Linked DNA regions of Homo sapiens. The protein of the gene in region 1 purifies or fractionates together with the protein of each later gene. This does not show direct contact. Each region holds a gene or a part of one and is shown on either strand. Other genes may lie near its edges.

Region 1 (3,813 bases):
TTCTGGTCTTTTTTTTTCCCCCTAACCAAGACAAATGAGGCTCAATTAAGGAAAAGGGACATAAGATACCTATTCCAAAACTGAATTCCTTTTAACTCTCATGAAATGACAAATAGAATTGTTAGTATATGTGAGCACTGAGAATTACTTTATTGATGAACACTGGTATTTTCTCTGGTGTAGGAAGCTGAACCATCTATCTCCAGAAATGTCTTCAGAAAGTAAAGAGCAACATAACGTTTCACCCAGAGACTCAGCTGAAGGAAATGACAGTTATCCATCTGGGATCCATCTGGAACTTCAAAGGGAATCAAGTACTGACTTCAAGCAATTTGAGACCAATGATCAATGCAGACCTTATCATAGGATCCTTATTGAGCGTCAAGAGAAATCAGATACAAACTTCAAGGAGTTTGTTATTAAAAAGCTGCAGAAGAATTGCCAGTGCAGTCCAGCCAAAGCCAAAAATATGATTTTAGGTTTCCTTCCTGTTTTGCAGTGGCTCCCAAAATACGACCTAAAGAAAAACATTTTAGGGGATGTGATGTCAGGCTTGATTGTGGGCATATTATTGGTGCCCCAGTCCATTGCTTATTCCCTGCTGGCTGGCCAAGAACCTGTCTATGGTCTGTACACATCTTTTTTTGCCAGCATCATTTATTTTCTCTTGGGTACCTCCCGTCACATCTCTGTGGGCATTTTTGGAGTACTGTGCCTTATGATTGGTGAGACAGTTGACCGAGAACTACAGAAAGCTGGCTATGACAATGCCCATAGTGCTCCTTCCTTAGGAATGGTTTCAAATGGGAGCACATTATTAAATCATACATCAGACAGGATATGTGACAAAAGTTGCTATGCAATTATGGTTGGCAGCACTGTAACCTTTATAGCTGGAGTTTATCAGGTAAGCAGCAATGAAACAATTGGTTATTTCTAGAAAAGTAATCTAGTACATGAAATCTCATATCTCTAAGGGATCTGAGGAATCACAATAATTAAAGGTATCATTTATTGAGAGTTCAGGATATATGAAGGGTAGAGGCAAAATTCAAACCCTAACCTGACTCCACAGGTAATATAAGGCTGGTTCACTGGACCTCCACCACCCAGTACAACTCCTTAATTTTACATGTCAGAAAATCTTGGCTTTGCTTGAGATTATTTGTGGCTGGTTATTGGCAGAGTCAGCATTAGCAGTTAGGCAAGTGGGTAACAGAATGGAGTTGAGAGTGCAGGAGTTTCTCACTTTTTTTTTTTTTCTGGAGACAGGGTCTCACTCTGTCACGCTGGAGTGCAGTGGCACTATCTTAGTTCACTGCAACGTCCGCCTCCCTGGCTCAAGCAGTCCTCCTACCTCAACCTCCTGAGTAGCTAGGACTACAGGCACATGCTACCACACCTGGCTAATTTTATTTTATTTTATTTTATTTTATTTTTTATTTTTATTTTTTGTAGAGACAGGGTTTTGCCACGTTGCCCAGGCTGGTTTCAAACTCCTGAGCTCAAGCAATCCTCCCGTCTTGGCCTCCCAAAGTGCTGGGATTATAGCCATGAGCCACCACACCCAGCCTCAAATTCTAAATGTCTCTTACCTTCCATTAAAATTGCTGATCTATTGAGCAACTCTTACTAAAGGTAGTGGTTGTCTTGGATTGTTGGGGAGGGAGGGAAAAAGTTGGGGACCACAGTTTCATATTATCAGCCAGGAGAAAGGATAAGAAATCAAATTCTTGAGTCTCCCATAGAATCCACTAATCTGTCATTATCATCATGCCCCTGGCTTTTGGCATCCAGGAGTCAGTGCCAGGATTAAACCTTCTCTAATGCAGGCATTTCAAACCAACAAGGGAAGGGGAAGAGTAGCTCACTTTAGTTGGTGCTCAGATGAGTGGGGAGGGAGAGTGAAGATGGTGTGAAGATGAGCTGTCTACTCATATATAATGGTAAATAATAAGTCTACTTACTTATTTATTATTTATTCATTTATTTATAAAGAGACAGGGTCTCTCTATGACCAAACTCCTGGGCTCAAGTGATCCTCCCAATATTGCCTCCCCAAATGCTGGGATTACAGGCATGAGCCATCACGCCCAACCAACTTTTGCCTTTTTGTTAGTATGTCCCACCAAGAAGGAAGAAGGCATAACAATTCTGAAAACTTATTAGACAGAGGAAAATATAAAGAAGTAAAAATGCAGAATTTTTATTAATATGGGAGACAGTGTGGCATAAGTACATATATACTGCATGAGAATGGTTTCTTAGTATGAGGTTAAAGATAATCTACAATAATTTTTAAAGTGTGATTCTACTTTGATGTAAATCTAATTTTTTGTTTTACCAATTAAAACTTCACTTGTACACTTGCTCTTAGCCAAGAGGCTGAGAAGCCGTAAGACTTCACTTTTACAGTAGTGATTTGTAATTTAAGGAAAATACTTGGTTTCTTAACTAGAATAATTTTTTCCAATTTGAAGTTTTCTTGTGGATCCTTGAGAATGTTTTTCTTTTAAAAGAGGTCTGTTCTTTGTGATGGGAAGAATGAAAAAAAAAAGAGGTATGAACCTTATTCAAGTTTAAGAAACGTATGAAAAGAAAGAAATCCAAAGTTCCTGTCTCACCTGGGTTAATAAGTAACAGTGTGACCTTGGGCAAGTTGCTTAGCCCTTTAAACATAATTTTCATCTTTGTAAAATGAGAAGATTGATATATGATTGTGTTTATTCTAGCTCTGACATTCTGTGATGCTCTGATGATATGTCTCCATGCAAGAAATGTCAGGATAATATAAAATTTAGAAGTTCTTTTCCATTTATATTTAACACTTCTATATCCTTCCTTCCAGGTAGCGATGGGCTTCTTTCAAGTGGGTTTTGTTTCTGTCTACCTCTCAGATGCCTTGCTGAGTGGATTTGTCACTGGTGCCTCCTTCACTATTCTTACATCTCAGGCCAAGTATCTTCTTGGGCTCAACCTTCCTCGGACTAATGGTGTGGGCTCACTCATCACTACCTGGATACATGTCTTCAGAAACATCCATAAGACCAATCTCTGTGATCTTATCACCAGCCTTTTGTGCCTTTTGGTTCTTTTGCCAACCAAAGAACTCAATGAACACTTCAAATCCAAGCTTAAGGCACCGATTCCTATTGAACTTGTTGTTGTTGTAGCAGCCACATTAGCCTCTCATTTTGGAAAACTACATGAAAATTATAATTCTAGTATTGCTGGACATATTCCCACTGGGTTTATGCCACCCAAAGTACCAGAATGGAACCTAATTCCTAGTGTGGCTGTAGATGCAATAGCTATTTCCATCATTGGTTTTGCTATCACTGTATCACTTTCTGAGATGTTTGCCAAGAAACATGGTTACACAGTCAAAGCAAACCAGGAAATGTATGCCATTGGCTTTTGTAATATCATCCCTTCCTTCTTCCACTGTTTTACTACTAGTGCAGCTCTTGCAAAGACATTGGTTAAAGAATCAACAGGCTGCCATACTCAGCTTTCTGGTGTGGTAACAGCCCTGGTTCTTTTGTTGGTCCTCCTAGTAATAGCTCCTTTGTTCTATTCCCTTCAAAAAAGTGTCCTTGGTGTGATCACAATTGTAAATCTACGGGGAGCCCTTCGTAAATTTAGGGATCTTCCCAAAATGTGGAGTATTAGTAGAATGGATACAGTTATCTGGTTTGTTACTATGCTGTCCTCTGCACTGCTAAGTACTGAAATAGGCCTACTTGTTGGGGTTTGTTTTTCTATATTTTGTGTCATCCTCCGCACTCAGAAGCCAAAGAGTTCACTGCTTGG
Region 2 (3,813 bases), on another chromosome or scaffold:
GAGCATGCATCACTTCACCCAGTGAGGAGACGCCACTACCTCGGGTGGGATGCAACAGCTGCTTGCTGGCTGTGCAGCTGCCTGGGTATCCAGCCTGGCACAGAAGGATAGATAGGACTGGGTAGCTCAGGGTGAACAGTAAGGCAAGGCCCAGGGCCCCTCAGCCAGACCTCATCCCTTGCTGGGCCTAGAGCTTATGTAGGAGATGTGACCCGTCCTTGGCCCACACATTGCCTCCTTCTTTTGGGCATTTGCAGCCACCTAGTTCTAAGCAAACCTCCAGCCTCTGGGTAGCCTGGGAGTGGGACCCATCATCAGCCTTCGTCCTGGGCCTGACCTCTTCTGTCTTCTATTTGCTCCCAATCCCTAGCTGAAGCCAGGGCACAGGGTGATGTCCTGAATACAAAGCACTAAATGAGGATAGTTCAGGTCCAGGTCCTCTCTCTTACCTCTTTTCTTCCTCTCCCATAATTCAGAAAGACCTGCTGGGGAGGCACTGTGGGTCCCGTGGGGGAAAGCTTGGCCTGGTGTATCAGTCTTGCCCTGTTGTGGGAGCCCTGAGCTGAATGGGGTAAATGCCTGCACCCTGCCCAGGAGATGAACTCAGGCTGAAGTGAGGTGGGAGTGTGTGGTGTGTCCCCAAGGTAGCTGACGCAGTGGCACTGTGGCAGCCTGTGTGAGGTGGGTGAGCTGCTCCTTCCCTTTTTTGCCAACACTCCTGAGTGAGTAAGCAGGTGTTGGTGCAGGGTGGGGTGGTGGTGGGGAAGTGCTGGTGTCTGGGGTCTCTTAGAAATTCCTGCATCATGGGTGGTGTCCCAAGTCCCCATCTTGTTTCTGCATGTGGAAGACCCAGGTGGGAGGGAAGGCCCGGAGGTGTGTCTGAGGGACTGGAACTCTGAATCCAGTTTCTGGCAGACCCTGGGGGCACCTTGGCATGGTTCACTGACTTTTGCCTGTTAGGTGGAGAGGAATGTGAACATCTGCAACTCTCCCACCTTGGAAAGAGGCTTTATAGTCTCCTTGGGTCTGTGTGTGGGAGTGAGCTGCTCTGGGCTGTGGGTTTGTTAGATGGCCAGTGGTGTCAGTGGCAGAGCACGTTCTCATGTCCTGGCAATGCTTCCACACACTGCTGGCTGTCTGGGCTGTGGAAGGGGATGTGCCAGGGCTAGGAGGACCCCAGGCCCACCCAGGCTCTTCACCAGTGGGACCAGCCCAGTGTGACCTTGAGCTAGTGTCCTTGGCCACTGGCAGTCTGCTCTCCAAGGGCTCCCTGGGGCTAACTGAGGGAGAGGCAGCTGGCCTCGCCTTCCTCCAATGATTTTCCAATATTTACTGGCTCATTGACATATTGCCCGGGCCATGGCTCCTACTGTGCAGCAAGGACCTGAGAGCCAGCCCATGGTCACCCTGTCTTCCCTCCGAGGTTGCACCTGGCTGGGAGGGAAAGGGCTTGTCCTCTCTGCCTGATCACTCAGGGACAGAGCATATAGCTTGTCCTGCCCCTCACCTTCCATCCCCAGCCCCCACTAGAGTCATTCTTGCTCAGTGGGCAGAGCATGCAAGGGAGAGCAGTCTCCCAGGAAGGGCCAGGGGGCAACTACAAGCCCCTTCTCTGCCTGTGGGCCTGGCTTAGAAGTTTGCTCCTTTGCCTTCTTCCTGTCCCTTCTCTGCCCAAGTCTGAATTTTGGTAGGACCTGGTGCATGTGCTATAATGATTTGGGGCTGAACAGTCAATGGCATTTTAATTAGCTCCATGCCTCCCTCCAGTAGGGAGGACCAGGGCCCCCAGGTAACAGCAGGTAGGACCAGGCTAGTTTTGGGCCTGAGGCTGCCCCTCCAGGGGTCTGGGAGCAGGCTCTGGGACCTGGTGCTCCCTGTGTGAGATGCTGTGAGGAGGGAGAGCTGGGCAGAGAAGGAAGGGCTGTGTCGCAGGGCCACAGTTTTCTCTCCATCCTCTGTCTCCCTTGATCCTCTGTTCTCCCTGATGGCTTTGAGATGAAGGCGACGGCAAGGATGGAGGATGCAGTTTCCATGGCAACGGGGCTGTCCACAGCCAGGCAACTTCAGAGCCGGGCTCTCCGGAGGAAGCAGATGCGCAGAACAGCCGCAGAGCTGCCTCCCGCCTGCCAACGAGGGGGCTGGCAGAACAGGTGGCACAGGGTGGCAGCCTGGTGCTGCCCAGCCTAGGGGAGAGGGTGGAAAGAGCAGTACTCCCTCTTATTATCTTGTTATGGCCAAGTTCCTCCAGAAGGGAAGCTAGGGAGGTGGCTTGAGTGTTGAGAGGGGTTGGGCTAGGGTCCCCATTGTCCCTGGAATCTCTGGGTGGACACAGGCTCTGTCCTCTGGGATCTTCCCCCAAAAGCCAAATGTCTGCTGCTCTTGTGATGGCCACTCAGCTACTACCCTTTGGGTCCTTTGTCCAGAGTGTGAGGATGTTGGTGAAGGCCATGCCCTGACTAGATTCAGGGATCCTTTTCTTTCATCTAGCTACTGGGGAAGGACCTGGACCTTCTTCAGGGGCCTCCCTGCCCCTGGCCTCAGTGACCTGGACCAGTTTGCTGAGTTGGGTTCAGGTTTGGCAGATGCCTGCCTCTAAGTGCTGGCATTGGAGGGGCCCCAGAGCCTGACAGCTCCTGCTTCCTGACACTGTGATCTTGTTTAGCCTCCTCCTGGAGACCAAGGCTGGAGTGGGTATGTGAGTGGGTAGAGAAGCAAAGACAGCCATCTGTGTGTTTAGAAATGGGACGTGTCAGGGGCATGGACTCTTGAGATGGAGGAAGCCCCGAGGGCACCCAGGTTGGCAAAGAAGATTTGACTCCAACTATTAAAAAATAATGACTTTCCTTCACCGACCTTGGAAGCATCAGGGCTAGGGTGTTCTACTTTGCTGTTGAGCACATGGAGACTTAGGATGGAAGGCTTTGCCTGGATCACCCATGGAGTCAGAGGCTGAGCCACAGCCAGACCTGGGACAGGCCATCCACCTCCCGCGTGGCCTCCTAGATGCACCCTCCCTTCAGCTGGCTGCTGAGGGTCCTAGCTAGGTAAACCTTTCAGGCTCACTCCTCTTTCCCTTTATCATCCGTGGGCTTGCTTTTAACCCTTCTTTGCTAGCTTGCTTTAGTTGAAGGAGGTTCCTCAACCCTAGGGTTGGCCAGGCAGGTGGACAAGTGGAGTCTTGGAGTGGCTTCTCCTTGCCAGGCAATAAGTCTCTCATTACTGCTAAGTGGAAGGCTCATTTCAGAGCTCATGGTGAGAGCGGGGCGAATGCTATAAATAGTCGTGTTGTGAAGATTGGCGGGTGAGCAGTGACAGGGCAGGGGCCTTGCAGTCATCATAGTGGGTATTTGTGCTCCTTCGCAGGAAAGGTGGCGGGGCAGGCTCTGAGTAAGAGGCAACTTGACCCCTGTTCTGGCTGTCCCTGCCTGCCTCAGGGTGGCTCTGGCATGTCTGTGCCCCTCCATACTCATTGGGGGATGGGGAGCACTGGATTCTGTGTCTAGGCAGAGGGAGGTGGAGTGCCTTTTGGAACTTGGGGCCCAAAAGGTGGTACATCAGCCCACTGGGTAATGTCCTGTGCTAGATCTACTTGTCCTACCTGACCTTCCAGTCCAGGGTCTCCCTCTTCCCCATCAGCTAAAACCTGAGTTTACATGTGAGGAGGTATGGGAACCATACCTGATAGTCTCAGAGGTTGACATAGCTCTAAACTAGCAGGGGAATGAATGGGAGTGGAAGTGGTGTTTAGCTGGCCTTGATCCTTGTTCAGGGTCTATAGTAGCATGTCTGCAAGAGCAGGGGCTGGAGGCCTAA

The links.
Region 2: the proteins of SLC26A2 (region 1) and TEX264 purify together in Homo sapiens (affinity purification with mass spectrometry; one large-scale study listed by BioGRID and IntAct). This does not show direct contact.

What each region holds. Positions count from the first base shown.
Region 1 is NC_000005.10:149,977,445-149,981,257, forward strand, and holds part of SLC26A2 (sulfate transporter), read left to right. Parts: intron 1-183; 5' UTR 184-208; coding exon 209-907; intron 908-2,848; coding exon 2,849-3,813. UniProt on the Homo sapiens protein: Sulfate transporter which mediates sulfate uptake into chondrocytes in order to maintain adequate sulfation of proteoglycans which is needed for cartilage development.
Region 2 is NC_000003.12:51,695,095-51,698,907, forward strand, and holds part of TEX264 (testis-expressed protein 264), read left to right. Parts: intron 1-3,813. UniProt on the Homo sapiens protein: Major reticulophagy (also called ER-phagy) receptor that acts independently of other candidate reticulophagy receptors to remodel subdomains of the endoplasmic reticulum into autophagosomes upon nutrient stress, which then fuse with lysosomes for endoplasmic reticulum turnover.